3 separate regions of the Homo sapiens genome follow, and all the other regions are linked to region 1. The links come from fine-mapping of genetic effects on gene expression. A gene starts in region 1. Each other region holds a variant in brackets. All regions are shown on one strand. Distances are between the middles of the regions.

Region 1 (5,506 bases):
CCTGCCCTCCCCCAGGCCCCACCCACCATTTCAGCCTCTGGGCTCAGACTCCCAGGGTCTGCTTGATCTGCCACCCAACACTGGGTCTGAGCCACACCTCTCAGATTCAGGTCACCCGTGTTGCGAGGCCCTACTGTGCATGAGGCTATTAAATGCTCTCACTAAGTCCTTCCACCACCTCGTGGAGTATGAATTATTAGCCTTATTCAGCAAGGAAAGTGGCCTGCCCAGCGCTCCACCTGGCCTCCAAGTCTAAAGCTTTCTGTCCTGAGCCCCTTTCATTCATGTGCACACCACATGACTCCTGAGCTCCTTCTCAGGACACTCGTCAGTCATCCCATTGAATTTTTGCCCTCTGAGGAAGGGGTCATTAGCCCCATTTCACAGAGGGACAACCAAGGGTCAGAGAAGTAAGAGGACCTGCCCAAACCATGCCACGAATCGGCGGGGGTAGCAGGATTGGAACCCAGGGTTGTGTGATTCCCAAGCCTTTGATTTTAAGGATGGTCTTTCAGAAATTTGGCTGAGAAGGCGACCCCAGCTGCTAGGGTGTGCTGGGTCTCTATCCCTCCCAGGGACCTCTTCCTCTCACCCCACTTAGGGGAGAGCTGGGAATGAGACATCCTGGCCAGCAGGCACTTCACACAGGTCAGCCCTCAACACTTCCCCTCCCTCCAGCTGACAGCCCCCTAGATGGGGAAGGCTGAGGAGGGGCCTGTCCATCCAAGAAGCAAGCTTGGAGCCCCTGCCTGTCCTCCTCCTGTCTTACTGACTGGCCCACTGAGGCTGGGAAAGGGAAGGAACTTGCAGAGGGCGGCTGGGCACCCAGTGTTGCTTGAGAGGCCTGGGTCCTTTTCAGCCTGGGGGATGCAGGACAGCATAGCTCCTGGAACCAACCTGGGAGGCTGGACCTAGAAATCCCCAGCCCGCCTGAGCCAGAACCTGGACACTTGTCCAACAAGAACTCATCTGGGGCCTGGATCCCTCAAAGGGGGATGAGGTCCTTCCTTTCTCTGCCATCCCTGACGGAGCTGGGACCAAGCATGGCTGCTACGGTCACTCAAAGGGACACTCAAGGGTCACCTCATACATACCATCACCTCCACCTGCACATGCTTGGTTCCCCTCAGGGGTCCTCGTCCTATGTCCAGGGTCCCCCATGCACCTGCATGCACACGCTGCTATGTGCACTCACACACATTCATGGGTCCAAGCACACGCCCACCAGAGGTCTTTCACACACACACCCTCACCCACTGCAGCCACACACGGCCATAGCCAACAGTGGCCCAGCCAGGCACAGGCACACATCATGCACAATGGGTCACCCTCCCACGACCACGGACGGGAGGGCACGCTGGCATCCACCCATGTGGCAGACACATCCTTCACCTGCACACGCCCCACAGGTCCCCGCACCCCTCACTGAGTTGGCCACACACGCCCACACACGCCCACACACAGGGTTACCCTCACTCCCCCCTCAGGTCACCTTCACCAAGTCACCCTCCACCTCCACCTCCCCTTCCCGGGCCCACTGCCCTGGCCGGCTGCCGCGACCCTGGGAAGAACCAAATGCACACCCTCCCCTCGGAAGGGGAACCGATCCGATTCCCAAAAAGTGGCCATGGTCTGGGCACACCCACGAGGCAAAAGCCAGGCTCACTCCCACCCCAAGACACACCCAGCCGGGACGGCGACCCCCAGCCCGCCGCCGGGTCCTTCTCGCGCCTCCCAGGCCAGCGCAGGGGTCCCGCTTCGTCCCCGGGGAGACAGTTCCCGGAGCCACTGGGAGGTGGGGGAACAGGGCTGAGGACCCGCGATCGGGTTCCCTCCCGGGATTCCCTCTGGGGAGGGGTCCCAAAAGGAAGGAGAGATGCGCCCCCCGAAGATGACCAGCGGCGGGGGCGGCCTCTCCCCGCGGATGCCAGCTAGGGGGAGATTCCGGAGGGGGGGGAGCAGGGTGCAGAAAGGGGCGCTCGGGGGAGGGTCGAGGGGTGGCAGGGACCGCGGCCCCGGGGGAAGCAGCCGGGGGGGAGGGAGCGGGGTCCCGGAGGGGGGGTCGCGGGCGGGGACCGGCACCCCGCGCGGGGGGCGGCCCCGGGGAGCCGTGGCGGGGATCCGGGCGCGTGTCACTCACCCCCGCGGCGCGCCCCGCCAGCAGCAGCAGCAGCAGCGGTGGCAGGAGCAGCCCGCGGGCCCCGGGCCCGGCCGCGGCCCCGGCCCCGGCGCCGGCCCCGTGGGCGGCCCCGGCACGGTGCGGCGGCCCCGGCTTCATGGCGGCGGCGCGGGCGCGGGCGGCGGGCGGCGGGCGGGCGCCTTTGTTCCCGAGGCGCGGCGCGCGGGGCGGCTGCTTGGCGGCGGCGCGGCCCGGCGGCTGGACCGACGCGCTCTAGGCTCGCGGGCTCCCGGCTCGGCCGCCCGGCTCCGCCTCGCAGCTCCGCGCCCACAGCGGCCGCGCCCGCAGGAAGCGTGCGCCGCCGCCGCCGCCGCCGGGCCGCCCCCAGCGCGGGCGGAACGGAGGAGGGGCCCGGGGCGGGGCGGGCCCCAGTGCGCCCCCCGCGGGGCTCCGCGCCCTCTGACCCCAGTCCCAGCCCCCGCCCCCACCCAGAGGGAGCCCCGCGCTGCCGAGTGGGCACCCGGACACCTGAGTGAGCAGCCGGCCTCGCCGATCCCGGGGCTGGAGGTCGCGGAGCCCGCCGGACGCACCTCCGCGGCCGCCGTGCTAGGTAGAAGGGAAGGGTCCCGCGTGGGATACCAGGGCCCGGGCCTGGCTCCCTGAAGTCGCCGAGCGGAGGGGTCGCATGGGCGTTTTCATCTACAGCCTCCCCCTGTGGCTCCACGCACGTGTCTCTTCCTGGACTCCCATCGTCACCCTCACACACTCAGCCAGTCCACCCAGTGGGCCAGAGGTCATCCAAGACCACGGGCTTTCATGCCTCCAGGACACCCAGGGGCTGTGTGACCTCAGATCAGGGCCCGGCCCTCTCTGGGCCTCGGTCTCCCCAGGGGACCATGGGGGTGGTCACTTCTGGGCCCTGTCACTGTGGATCTGCAGAGGAAAAGCCACGCAGACCTGAGCGCAGCTGCTTCCACACCAGCTGTGCGCCTCCAGCAAGGCCCCCAGTTCTCTGAGACTCAGACCCCCCATGGTTGAATGGGACCACCCCCTCCAGTGCAGGATGGCGAGAAAAGTACATCTCTGAGTGGCAGTCTCTAGCGCTGGTGGTCTTTCTACCCTGTGTGGTCACGGTGCCTTTTCCCCCTTCACCTTCATCCCCAGCGGCATACCCCATGCTGTTCTTACTTCTCCAAGTCTCCAATGGCGTGTTAGCTCCAGCGGGGGCAGGGTTTTGTGTCTGTCTTGTTCACTGCTATGTCCCCAGCACCAGCACAGAGCTCGGCATGACATCGATGCTCAATCCAAATTTGCTGAATCAATGAATGTGTTTCCCATTTACTGGGGCTCAAAACCAAGTGTTTTGGGGCAAGATAGGGGAGAGTGAAACATTTCTGGAACCCTGACCACATGCCAGGTGCCCAGCGCTTTCATGTGTTATATCATTTCTCAGGAACCCCATAAGGTCGGTCTGTCAATATCTTCACTTCTTAGGTGGGGAAGCTGAGAGCCAGCAAGAAGAGGTTATTTGCTGATGACAGCTGGCTGGACGTCTCTACCCTCAGTTACTCTCCTCTCTGGCCCCTGTGTCCCAGCACCCAGCTTAGAGCCTGCCATTAGAAAATAGGAATGAAATCAGGCCGGTCGTGGTGGCTCACGCCTGTAATCCCACCACGTTGGGAGGCCGAGGCGGGTGGATCACGAGGTCAGGAGATCCTGGCCAACATGGTGAAACCCCGTCTCTACTAACAATACAAAAAAATTAGCCGGGCGTGGTGGCGGGCGCCTGTAGTCCCAGCTACCAGGAGGGTGAGGCAGGAGAATGGCATGAACCCGGGAGGCGGAGCTTGCAGTGAGCCGAGATCGCGCCACTGCACTCCAGCCTGGGCGACAGAGCGAGACTCCTTCTCAAAAACAAAAAAAAAAAAAAAAAGAAAAGAAAAGAAAATAGGGGAACGAAATTGAGTTGAAACTGGAACAATTCCCTCAAGGAAAGGGGAACCAAAACCAGGATGAATGGAGGGGCAGGCCTTGAGGAAGAGACTCTGGGGGACCAGCCATGGGTTTTTGGTGTTGGGGGTAACTGTACTTGTCCTGCAGGGCCCTTGGGAGGAGGACCAGGGGACAAAGGTCAACTCAACATAAAGTAGAGATAAATTAGAAGGGGCTCCCCAGGAGGGAGGGAGAGCCCAGTCCCTAAAGGGTATGAAAGGCAAGCTCACCACCCTTTGACAGGGATCCTGGACAGGGAAGACAGGGAGACTTTCGAACTAGGAATTCTGAGGTCCCAGCCTCTGAAAATTCAATTCTCAAATCTTTTGGCATGACATCAATGCTCGATCCAAATTTGACTGGCACCTTGGGGAGATGGGCAGGGAGGCTGATGGGGTGCAATAGGTGGGAAACTGGTTTCTGTTGAGGTAGCACAGCTTGGAATTGAAGAGCTCTGGCTCTGGGTCGGCCAAGTATCTGGGTTCAAATCCCAGTTCTGCCAGTTATGAGCTGTATTGTGTTGGATGTGTGACTTAACCTCTCTGAGCCTCAATTTCCCAACTGTAATATAGAGATAATGACCACGCAGAGTTCATTCATTCATTCATTTAGCAAGCATAAATTGGGTGCCTGCTGTGTGCCAGGCCAGGTACCAGGTTGTGAGGATTACATGAGCTCTTCCCTGCCATCGTAATGGAGTTCAATGAAGGTGGCTGGGAATGAAGCTTACAAAGGAAGGGACTCAGATGTAGGGATAACATCATCCTTCAGAGATGCTGAGCAGATCCCAGGAACATACCAACCCTGAGGCGCTCCCAAAGGGCCAGCAGGGTTAGGGTGGGGATTATGAGGAGCCAGATGTCAGCTGGCCACAGACAGCAGTGGCAATTCTAAGAGGCAGTAAGTATCCTGTCTTGAGAGGTATTCAAGGCTCGGAGAACTATCTAGCAGGGAGACCATTAGGATGGTTTCCATGAGTAAGATGGGCAGTGAGCATGGCCCATCTTCAGAGGTTCCTGCCAGCTCTGAGACTTCTGGAAGCAGCAACTCCACTTCCCTGACATCCTGGGGAAGAGGTGGGGGCGGGGCAGTGGAGAATCTTTGGTCTGGACAGGCCAGGAGCGCCACCTGCTGCTCTTCAAAGACACTGGTCACAGCCAGAACTAAGACAGGTCTGGGCCCCTGAAGGTCCTTCTCATCTTGCTCCCCCCGGGTCCCAGGTCTCCCTGGGGTTCACAGATGCACACATTTCCTGCCCTCAAGCACATGGGTCATCTGCACAGTCACCCTTGCCCAGGCCTCCTTGTGCATTGGAGCCACATCCCCACATACTCAGGGTCTCCCTTCATAGCACCATAACCTCACCCACAGGCACCAGCTGCTGCCGCCTCCTGG
Region 2 (5,506 bases), 220 kb after region 1:
GAAAATGGACAAGGCCTTTAATAGGATTACAACTACATTTTACTCTCCACATTTCCTTCTTTATTAAACTTTCTATATGCCACAATTTTAACATTGATATCAGCCGGGTGCAGTGGCTCACGCCTGTAATCCTAGCACTTTGGGAGGCTGAGGCAGGTGGATTACCTGAGGTCAGGAGTTCGAGACCAGCCTGGCCAACATGGTGAAATCTCATCTCTACAGAAAATACAAAATTAGCCAGGCATGGTGGCGCATGCCTGTAATCCCAGCTACTTGGGGGGCTGAGGCAGGAGAATCACTTGAACCGAGGAGGCGGAGGTTGCAGTGAGCCAAGATCGTGCCACTGCACTCCAGCCTAGACAACAAGAGTGAAACTTTGTCTCAAAAACAAAACAAAACAAAACAAAAAAATTTGATATCTTGTGCTTTTCAAAGTTGTTATGAGATGTTAGACTAAATGATCCATCACTAGGCTCTGAAACATTCTTTATTGCTTTATTATAATATAATTAAATTGTGGCCAGGCACGGTGGCTCACACCTGTAATCCCAGCACTTTGGGAGGCCAAGGCGGGCAGATCATGTGAGGTCAGGAGTTTGAGACTAGCCTGGCCAATATGGTGAAACCCCATCTCCACTAAAAATATAAAAATTAGCCAGCATGGTGGCAGGTGCCTGTAATCCCAGCTACTCAGGGGGCTGAGGCAGGAGAATCGCTTGAACCTGGGAGACAGAGGTTGCAGTAAGCCGAGATCGTGCCATTGCACTCCAGCCTGGATGACAAGAGTGGAACTCCATCTCAAAATAATAATAATAATGATAATAGTAAAATTGCAGGAAAAAATGTAGTACTAAGAAATTGACCCAGAAGGAAAAGGGAAGGAAAAGGAAAAGAGGGAGAAAATAAGAAATAGGGAGGCCATTCTGAGAGCATCTAACATACAGTCCAGGAGTTGAGAATGGGGTGGATGGCAAATACTTTAAGAAATAAGATCTGAGGATTTTTCCAGAATAGAAGAAAGACATGAGCCTTCAGATTAAAAGTACCTAAATACTGAGTAGCTTCAATAAAAATAAGTCATCAAACACATCAAACTGATAGCTGTGGTAGCCTCTAAAAGGGTTGGGATTGGTTTGATGCTCATAGGAGATCTTTGCCTTAGCTGTAATGCATACATTTTTTATAAGGAGACTGGATCGGTGCGTCTCACATGCAGTCAGGAACTATTTTTAAAATAACCTAACCAGACTCAAATGTTGAATTCCTAACTGGAAAGCTAATCACTTGGAAGCCAGGGGGAGACGTCTTAAGCGAGCAGCCACTTGAATCATCACATAGGGTATCTGCCCTCAAAGAGCCAGAGCCTAGGGGAGGAGACAAAGCCCCAGAAAAATATACTGGGAAAACTCCCAATATAGACGGAGATATCAATTGCTGGCACCACCAGCCCGTGTTGATGATACGCTATGTGCCTAACAAACAGTAGCTGATCTAAACTTCATGGCAATCCTACAAGGCTGGGCTATCATTATTTCCACATTATAAAGAATCTGAGGCTGGGCGCACTTTGGGAGGCCAAGGCAGGCAGATCACTTGAGGTCAGGAGTTTGAGACCGGCCTGGCCAACATGGTGAAAACCCGTCTCTTTTAAAAATACAAAAATTAGCCAGGCATGGTGGCACATGCCTGTAGTCCCAGCTACTTGGGAGGCTGAGACAGGAGAATTGCTTGAACCTGGGAGGCAGAGGTTGCAGTGAGCCAAGATTGTACCATTGCACTCCAGCCTGGGTGACAAGAGTGAAACTCCATCCCCTGTGCCAAAAAAAAAAAGAGAATCTGAGGCTTAGAAAAAGTAAGGTGGCCAGGTGTGATGGCTCATGCCTATAATCCCAGCTCTTTGGGAGGCCAAAGTAGGTGGATGATATACCCCAGAAGTTGGAAACCAGCCTGGGCAACATGGTGAAACCCAGTTTATACCAAAAATACAAAAATCAGCCTGGCATGGTGGTACATGCTTGTGGTCCCAGCTTCTCAGAAGGCTGAGGTGAGAGGATCTCTTGAGTCCGGGAAATCGAGGCTGCAGTGAGCTGTGATCACACCACTGCACTCCAGCCTGGGTGACAGAGTGAGACCCTGTTTCAAATAAATAAATAAATAAATAAATAAATAAATAAATAAATAAATCAGAGCTGTGCTCTTAATTAATTAATTAATTTTTGAGAGGGAGTCTTGCTCTGTCTCCCAGGCTGGAGTACAGTGGCGTGATCTCAGCTCACTGAAACCTGTCTCCTGAGTACAAGCGATTCTCCTGCCTCAGCCTCCCAAGTAGCTGGGATTAGCACACCTGGCTAATTTTTGTATTTATGGTAGAGATGGGGTTTTGCCATGTTGGCCAGGCTGGTCTCAAACTCCTGACCTCAGGTGATTTGCCTGCCTCAGCCTCCCAAAATTCTGGGATTACAGGCGTGAACCACCGCACCCAGCCCGCTCTCAATTTCATATTTTGCAAATGCAGTGAGGACACAGAGGAGACGAGGTTTTAACTTGCATTTGTGGATGAGGGGCCTAGAGAGGAGCAGGGCAGGAGACATTTGAGTGGGCCTTGAAGGGCAAATAGGATTTTGCCGGAGCTGGAAGAAAGGACCGTCTCACAGAAGATAACTCATGAGCAAAGTGGCAGGGCTGGATGTGGCCTGGGGGGAGTAGGTGAAGTAGATGTGAGCAGGAGGCGAGTGTCCCAGTGAGGGGAGGTCTCTGATGGTCTTTTATGTACTTGAGCTTAAACCCCAGACTATGAATGAGTGACCCACCTGCTCTGTCCTGTTTCTTTTCTTTTTTTTTTTTTTTTGAGATGGAGTCTCGCTCTGTTGCCCCGGCTGGAGTGCAGTGGCACAATCTCGGCTCACCACAACCTCCGCCTCCCAGGTTCAAGCTATTCTCCTACCTCAGCCTCCCCAGTAGCTGGGACTACAAGCATGTGCCACCATGCCCGGCTAATTTTTGTAATTTTAGTAGACACGGGATTTCACTATGTTGGCCAGGCTGGTCGAGAACTCCTGACCTCGTGATCCACCCGCCTCGGCCTCCCAAACTGCTGGGATTACAGGCGTGAGCCACCGCGCCCAGCCTCCTCAGTTTCTTTTCAGTTCAGAGTACATGAGAC[A/G]AAAGTGCTCAGACAGCGCCTGGTGCATCCTAATTCTCAGTATGTTCGTTATAATTAGTTTTGATACAAGCAAGAGTAGTTGCCTTCTCACATTTCTGTATCAGCCATGACTTGTTTCAAGTGACAGAAACCCAGATCAGACAAATGGTTTTTATTTTGTTTTCTTTTGGAAGACTGGCATCACCATGGAAAGTGCAAGGGTCCAGGTTGCAAGGGTTCAGGGATGGCTAGATCCAGGGTCTCAGACGCTGCCCAGTCTCTCATCTCTGCTTCTTTCCACCTGAACTCTATTGTTCCAAACCTACGCTGGAGTCATGGTGGCCAGTGGCCATAGAGTCTCCCATCTTCACCACTGAACTGGAAGTCAGAGTCATTCTCTCTAGCTCCAGGTTTAAGCAATCTTGGGGTTAAATACACTTTGACGTAACATGGCCAGGGAGGTGGGGCCTGTAAGACTTGGGGGCACCCATTTGGAACACATGGTGTATGTCGGGGAAAGGAGGATAGGAACATTCCCCAGAAGAGTGAGGTGTAGTTTCTGGGCAGATAAAACAATAGAATTCACTGTAACTTCACTTACATCCAAAAAAAAAAAAAAAAAAAAAAAAAAAATTCTTGCCCATACTGTTTTTTGTCTAGTAACAGAATGGGTGTCTTTTGTTTACAAAGATTTAACATCAATGGCCAGATTCTGTGTGTGCATGCTTGTGCAGTTTACATCAGCATATTTTCTTCTGTACACAGGATTGGAAAACTTGTTTTTCTCTCTGTAATCTTGTAACATCTTCTTTTTGTCTCTTTGTTCTGAAATTTTTGCCAGGTTACCTTGGCATGAACCGATTTTCATCCAATTTTCTAGGAACTTAGTAGATCCTATGGAAACCAATGTTCTTTAAACTTCTTGAGTTTTCTTTGAGGATTTCCTTCCCTCTGTTTCCTCTGCTTTTTCTGGAACTCTTGAAACTGAAATATTACACTTCCTAGACAGGCCCTCTGATTTTCTCATTTCTGCCCTATTTTATTTATTTATTTATTTATTGAGACATGGTCTCGTTTTGTCACCCAGGCTGGAGCACAGTGCCATGATCTCTGCTCACTGCAACCACCACCTCCCAGGTTCAAGCGATTCTCCTGCCTCAGCCTCCCAAGTAGCTGGAACTATAGACACATGCCACCATGCCCAGCTAATTTTTGTACTTTTTGTAGAGACAGAGTTTCACCATGCTGCGAAGCTGGTCTTGAACTTAGGGACTCAAACAATCAGTCTATCTTGGCCTCCTAAAGTGCTGGGATTACACGTGTGAGCCACTATACCTGGCCCTATTTTCTGTCGATGTTGTTTTGCATTATTTTCTGTGATCTTCCTGTAACATAACTCCAACTCTTCTAATTTTCATTGCTATTGTCATTTTTATTTCAATACCTGTTTTATATGTGTGTCAAACATGATTTTACACAGAAAACTGTTTTAGTTTTTTTTTTTTTTTTTTTTGACAGGCTGGAGTGCAGTGGCACAATCTCGGCTCACTGCAACCTCCGCCTCCTGGGTTCAAGCAATTCTCCTGCCTCAGCCTCCCGAGTAGCTGGGATCACAGGTGCCTGCCACCACGCCCAGATAATTTCGTATTTTTAATAGAGACAGGTTTCACCATGTTGGCCAGGCTGGTGTCAAACTCCTGACCTCAGGTGATCTGCCTGCCTCGGCCTCCCAAAGTGCTTAGATTACAGATGTGAGCCACCGTGCCCGGCGTTTTTTAGCTTTTTAAAAGCATCTCTACATGCAAAACAAAGAACAAACTTCTTTGACCCCAGAGAACTTGAACTCAGAGAATTGCTTGAACCCAGCCACTATGCCCGGCCCAATTAAAAAAAAAATTTTTTTTGAGACAGAGTCTCACTCTGTCGCCCAGGCTGCAGTGCAGTGGCGCTTTCTCGGCTCACTGCAACCTCTGCCTCCCAGGTTCAAGCAATTCTCCCACCTCAGCCTCCCGAGTAGCTGTGACTATAGGCACACGCCACCATGCCTGGCTAATTTTTGTATTTTTAGTAGAGATGGGGTTTCACCACGTTGGACAGGCTGGTCTCAAACTCCTAACCTCAGGTAATCCAGCCACCTCAGCCTCCCAAAGTGCTGAAATTACAGGCGTGAGCCGCCGCGCCCGGCCTGTAAATTTTTTAAAAAAGAACATAATCAGTGGGGCACAGTGGCTCATGCCTACAATCCCAGCATTTTTTAGGAGGCCGAGGCAGGTGGATCACCTGAACTCAGGAGTTCAAGACCAGCCTGGGCAACATGGCAAAACAGTGTCTCTACTAAAAATATAAAAACTAGCTGGGCGTGGT
Region 3 (5,506 bases), 36 kb before region 1:
GGATGCTGGGGCCATCGGCTCTCAGATGGCAACTCCCAGGGCCCAGTCTCGATGCCTCTGTAAATCTGTACAGTTTGCGGGCTTCTATTTACAGGCAAGAGGCCTGGGGAGGCAAGTCCAGGGTTGTAGTTGTTGGGAGAAGAAATCCAGAGAACACAGGAGGCAGCCACTCCTACCCCATGAGGCAGAGGGTCTGCTCCCTGTGTCCAGGGGCCCCCACCAGGAGGCCTGACAGGCGGCTTTGCCAACCCCAGGGGGGTTTGGCCCACACACCCTAAGCCCTGCCCAGCCCTGGTTGCCACCCACATGCCTCCAGCGATCAAGGGGACCAGTCTTTCAGGCAAGGCCCCCATCTGGCCTCCTGGCCTCCTGGAGACAGGGTCTGGGCTCTCCAGGTCCTGGCCTGCCTCGTGCTCTGGCAGCCAAGGCCCCAGAGGCTCTCAAGCCACAGAAGCTCCCTCTCATTTGGAACTCCCTGTGCTTCCAGCAAATGCCAAAGCCCCTCAGAACACTCCATCACAGGCAGGGGTAGGGGGACATGAGGGCCCTGCACCCACATTGCACCTGGGAGAGCCTAGCTGGTCCTCACTGAACTCTCTTGGACTGCCTTGCCCCGGTCAGGCCGGCCAGGGCAGATTTGGGCTGGTCAGACTCCTCATCCTCAGGAGGATAAAGCCTGGACATCTGCCTTGGGTCCAGGGATCCATGAACAAGGCCCCTGGCCTCTTCTCTCAAATGCTAAGGACACAGAGAAGAGAAGCCAGTGCCTGGAGCCCAAGCCCCAAATCAGAAGCCAACCCCTGGGATGTGAGGAGCCAGGCCTGCCGGGGCCACCCCCACCATTGGCTCCAGCCCTACTGAGAAACTGCACCCACTGTTGGGTCTCCCACCTGGGGTCCAGCATCTTCTGGGGCTGGGGGCCCAAGCCCTTTTCTCCTCTATCCTCCCTGGTTTCTCAGCCTCGGCCTGCCCAGGCCGTCTCACCAGAGCTGTGCTCTCCAAGACAGCAGCACCCCAGGGAGCAGGGTAGGGAGGCTGAGCCTTGTGGTCTGTGGCCCCAGGACCCAGCCCTTCTGCTCCAAAGATGACTGAGGCCAACCCGCCCCCTCCAGATATCAGGGGCCCCCCATGCCCACTCTTCTAAGGCTGGGTCCACCTGGCTTCCTCACAAGCCTCTGGGCCCTGTGAAGGAGGGTTTTGGGACTGGAAGATGGAGCCCAGCCTGGAAAAGACAGGCTGTGGGACAGCCCCTGGAACCTCCCCCTCACTGCCTACACACCGCTACCCCTCATCCTGCAGAAATCTGCTGCCAGGGCATCTTGAAAAGGGCCCTGAAATAAAACCTGCCTTCCTGACTTGAATCTGGGATGTGGGTGAGGGGTGGGGGTGTGAGTGCCAGCCAATCGCAACTCACACCACATCCCTTTGGCTCCAAGAGGCCCCCTGCCAAGCACACCCTCCCCAAAAGATCTGTGACCCCACATTTAAAATACCGATGGAAATAGCCCTACTTGCTAGGTAACAAAGGAAGTAACCCCTCCCCCACTATCACCTGGTCTCATCCCTCAAACCCTGACCTCGGGGCCTGAGGGATCTGCAGGGGCTGCTTCCAGCCATGGCCCCTGAAGCTGCAGCCAGAATTGTTTGGCCAAATAGGTGAGGGGGTGTCCACAGGGAGGGCCTCTGGGCAGGTGGGCTGAGGTTGGCCTGCCAGGCAGAGGGCAGAGGGTGCGGAGGGCCCGCCCTCACAGGCACTTTGGAGACTTGTGTCCTGGGAGGCAGAGTCAGCCCCCTAGCTCAAAGCAGGAAGGGGACACAGGGAGATAAAGGAGCCCAACCACATGCCCCCTCCCTGCCCTGGGCCTTCCGTCCTGGGAGACCCAAGACCCCCCAACAACCTGGGGCCAAATTTCCTTCCTCAGCCTTAGAGGAGCCCCCAGGCTCCCAGCTAGTGGGGGTCTGGCCCCAAACCTCCCCCTCTGCCAGCTGCGGTGGGGAGGAAGCAGGTAGGGGTGAAGCCAGGCCCACCTGCATGCAATGCCCTAAAAGGGCTGTGGCCCCACACTTTTTCCGAGAAAGGCAAGGGCCTGCCTGTTTCCCTCCAGCATTGAGAGCAGGTCATGTGGAGTGAGACTGTGCATCCACATGGGATTGTGTCTGACACTGGCTGGGGTTGG[C/T]GGCTGCATGGTTGGTGTGGGCACCATGGCATGGGACTGAGTATGACGGGGCAACTTAGGGGGACCCAATATGGGCTGATTGTTCTGGCTCGATTCCACCCTCCCCAGTAAGCCTGAAAGCTGGAGACAATGTGTGTGGTGCCAGAGTGTGGGTGTATTTGGGGTAGGAGGAGGCCACACTGTCACTGTCATGTGACCATGACTAGTGACTTGCATTGCAGTACGTGTCTGGGGGTGTGTAAGTGATGCATGAGGATAAACATTCTTGGAAGGACGCGTGTGTTCTGTGATATGTCTTGATTGGCTGGGCGGTCAGGATTGCGTATGGTTTTGTCATTGCATGCTTTTGTCTTGTGTGTGACTGAGTGAAAATATGGTGATAGTGTGGGCAATGGTGTCTGTGCAGAGTCCCCTCATAGGAGGGACATCAGAGCAGCCCCTCCTCACCAGTGGCTGCCCCAGCACCCTCAGGAAGCTGTTTCTTGGGGGAAGATGCAGAAAGAAATGAAGTCTGGGTACATGTGTACTTGGCAGGCAAGAGGAGAGATTCAACAACCCCAGAGAGACCAGGACAAAACAGGCTGGTGACAAGGGACACCCTCTCACCCAGCTAGAGAGAGGCCCTGGGATACGAGCAAGAGGTTGCAGTGTCTAGATGATTTCAAGGGCTGTGTTTACCAAATGTTTGTCCTGGAAACCAGCCTGAGTGCCTCTCTGCCCCAAAAAGGAGATCTCAGTGAGCACTGTGGGTGCCAAGTCAGGGCTCAGGCTCATCTCAAGCCCCACCCTTTCTTCCACCACCAGCCAATCAGGAGCTTTCTTCCTCCCATCCATCTGACATGAGGTCCTGAAGCCCCAGACTGGTGGCAGGGATGAGGGGAACAAGAGATGAGCTCGTAAGGGCACAGTCTGGGGCAGATGGCAGCAGCCCCTCTTCCTCGGGGAAGATCTGTGTGAGGCTGGCAGCCTGGGCAGACCTTGGGAGAGAGGGCAGAGAAGAACTGGGGCCAGGTTCCAGGCCCAGTCCCAGGCTTGGGCTGGTGGGGCCAGGCTGGGGACTGGACAGCAGGGTGGTGTTGAGGCTGCAGGGAGGCACTGTGGCTCCACTAGGCATAGAACTCCTCCTGCTTGTCAGGCTTCTGGTATGTGACGCTCGCCTGCTTGGGTTCCTCCAGCGTGTAGCTGCCCTCATCCTTTTTCTTCATACGATAGATGAGCAGTGTGACCAAGAAGGCAGCAAAGAGGGCGCCCACCACCCCGCCCACAATCACAGCTGTGGAAGAAGAGGGCACAGGTCAAGGCCCAGAGGCAGGGTAGAACCAGGGCAAAGGGTCCTCAGGGGTGGGGGCCAGGGTGAGGAGAGGGCTGGGAGTCCCAGATCTGAGTTGGAGTGATGATGGAGTCAATACTACTACTACCAGCACTGGGTACCATCATAGGCCTTCACTGGCTGCATTCTAATCGCCCAACACACTAACTCACTGAACCCTCACACCAGCCCTATGAGGGAGGGGTCATCTGAGGGCTTCATCAAATTTAAAATGCCACCACTCATAAGATGCCCCAGTATTTTATAACTGCTAGGAAAGAAAAAGCTCTGCTAACTAAATATGACATACCCCAACTACAGAAGACTTAACATGTGAACAGATGTGCCTCTTAGAATTGATTAAGGGCAAAATGACTATCCCCATTCTACCGATGAAGAGAAGGAAGACTGGAGAGGTGAAGTACCTTGCCTTGAGTGCAAAGCCAGGATTTGAACCAGGAGTCCACAGACTCCCTAGATGCGGCCAGGGCAGGTCCACAGGGACTGGGGTCAAAAACTGGGGAAGGTCAAGCTGAAGGATGGGTCAGAGATTAGCATCTAGGAAGTAAGGTCCCAGGGGGTCAGCCAGTGTGGCCCAGGAAAGCAGGGATCAAAGTCAGAGTCCACAGAGGGGTCAGAGGACACTGAGGGAAGACCTAGAGATGGACATGAAGTCAGGGTTGGATATTGGGAAGGAGGAAAGTTGGGAGGAGCCAGAAGGCAGGTCCTGGGGGGTTGAGTTCTCAAGTTTCCTTCCTATCTGGCTCCTAGGAAACCACGCCCTGATCTCCTTTCTGGGTTCCTAGAGGCAAACTGAGGCCCAGCCAGCTGTCTCACTCTGGTATCCTCCCAGGCTCCCCTTGGCCCAGACCCCAAGCCTCACCTACGAGCACCTCCTTCCGCTCCAGGATACTCTTCTGAGGCAGCTGAGCAGCTGAGCTGCCCGAGTCGATGGCATTGTCCAGGAGGCCAGGGCCCGGGCGGGCACCCTTGGGCAGTGTCCCAGGTGGAGATGATGCCTTGGCCGCAGCCCCTCCCACAGCTACCACCTCATTGGCTGTGTCTGGTTGTGTGGTCTCTTCTTCTGGCAGCTCGAAGTCTCCACTGGGCCCCCCACTCACCGGAACCTCTGGCTCATCCCGGATTGTGGTCAGGAAGGTCTCTGGAGTTGGGGTCTGCAGAGAGGGTGGCATGAGCCCAGGACAACCACACATGCATGCATAACCCCCCACCACCATCCTACTGCCCTGGGGGGCTAACACTTAGCACTCCCTACATGCCAGGCACTGTGCTACACACTATCCCCATGAAGGAGTGTAACAATGCCCCCAGTTTACAGAGCAGGAAGTCAGCTCAGAGCATAAATGACCTGCCCAAGGACACACAGCTAGTAAGTGGGGGACAGAACTAAAATTCAGATCTATCTGTCTCCACAGTCTGTGTTTCTAACCACTAACACACTGCCTCTGTTCTTGCTCTGGACATCCTGTCCCCCTCATGTCCCCTCCAGCTGCCTTAGTAACAATCCTTGGGGGATTCCTGCCGAGAAGCTGTTTGGGAACTGCTGGGTGCAGATGCTATGGATGTGGGCCTGGTCCCAGTCCATGCCTAAGGCAGGGGAGCATTCTGTAGCCTGGAGGCCAGTCCAAGAGCACAACCTGCAGACTATGATGGCCTCAGGGGCAGGTGTCCCGGAAACCAGCTCAGTGACTGACAATCTCTAGGGCTCCCACCACTCGGAGGCAGGATCAGAGCTGGGAATGATGAGACCAAAGTGGGGGCTGTGGGAGCCATCAGAGCAGGGATGTCGCTACTTCAAAGGTGGGCATGGAAAGGCAGGCCTGATGTCCAGGCTGAAAAGAGGCTGCAGCAGTGCCCCAGCGTACACAGCGTGCACAATGGCTCCTCCAGCAACCTGGGCCCTGTGCACCTTCTCCTGGGCTCCGTGCCCCATCACTGTTTCCCCTTCCTGCTTGGCCAAGTCTGTGTGAAAACACCAGGCTGCCCCAGCTGCTTGAGG

Evidence for each region. PIP is the estimated chance that this variant, and not a neighbour inherited with it, causes the effect. A credible set is the group of variants that fine-mapping cannot tell apart.
Region 2: its variant is the best candidate, but not a certain one, in a credible set for the expression of SDC3 in whole blood (TOPMed, PIP 0.56).
Region 3: its variant is the best candidate, but not a certain one, in a credible set for the expression of SDC3 in tibial artery (GTEx, PIP 0.79).

What each region holds. Positions count from the first base shown.
Region 1 is chr1:30,906,309-30,911,814 of GRCh38, forward strand. SDC3 (syndecan 3) reads right to left here and starts at 2,450. Exons shown (of 5, transcript NM_014654.4): 1 at 2,141-2,450. The coding sequence starts at 2,278. RefSeq lists a silencer at 2,405-2,494.
Region 2 is chr1:31,126,179-31,131,684 of GRCh38, forward strand. No RefSeq gene overlaps it. Among named protein-coding and RNA genes, the nearest start is that of PUM1, 63 kb to the left of the region's middle. The variant A/G (reference allele first, on the strand shown) is at 3,164.
Region 3 is chr1:30,869,928-30,875,433 of GRCh38, forward strand. SDC3 (syndecan 3) reads right to left here. Exons shown (of 5, transcript NM_014654.4): 4 at 4,370-4,661; 5 at 1-3,450. The coding sequence ends at 3,284. Among named protein-coding and RNA genes, the nearest start is that of SDC3, 36 kb to the right of the region's middle. RefSeq lists an enhancer at 609-1,480. The variant C/T (reference allele first, on the strand shown) is at 2,178.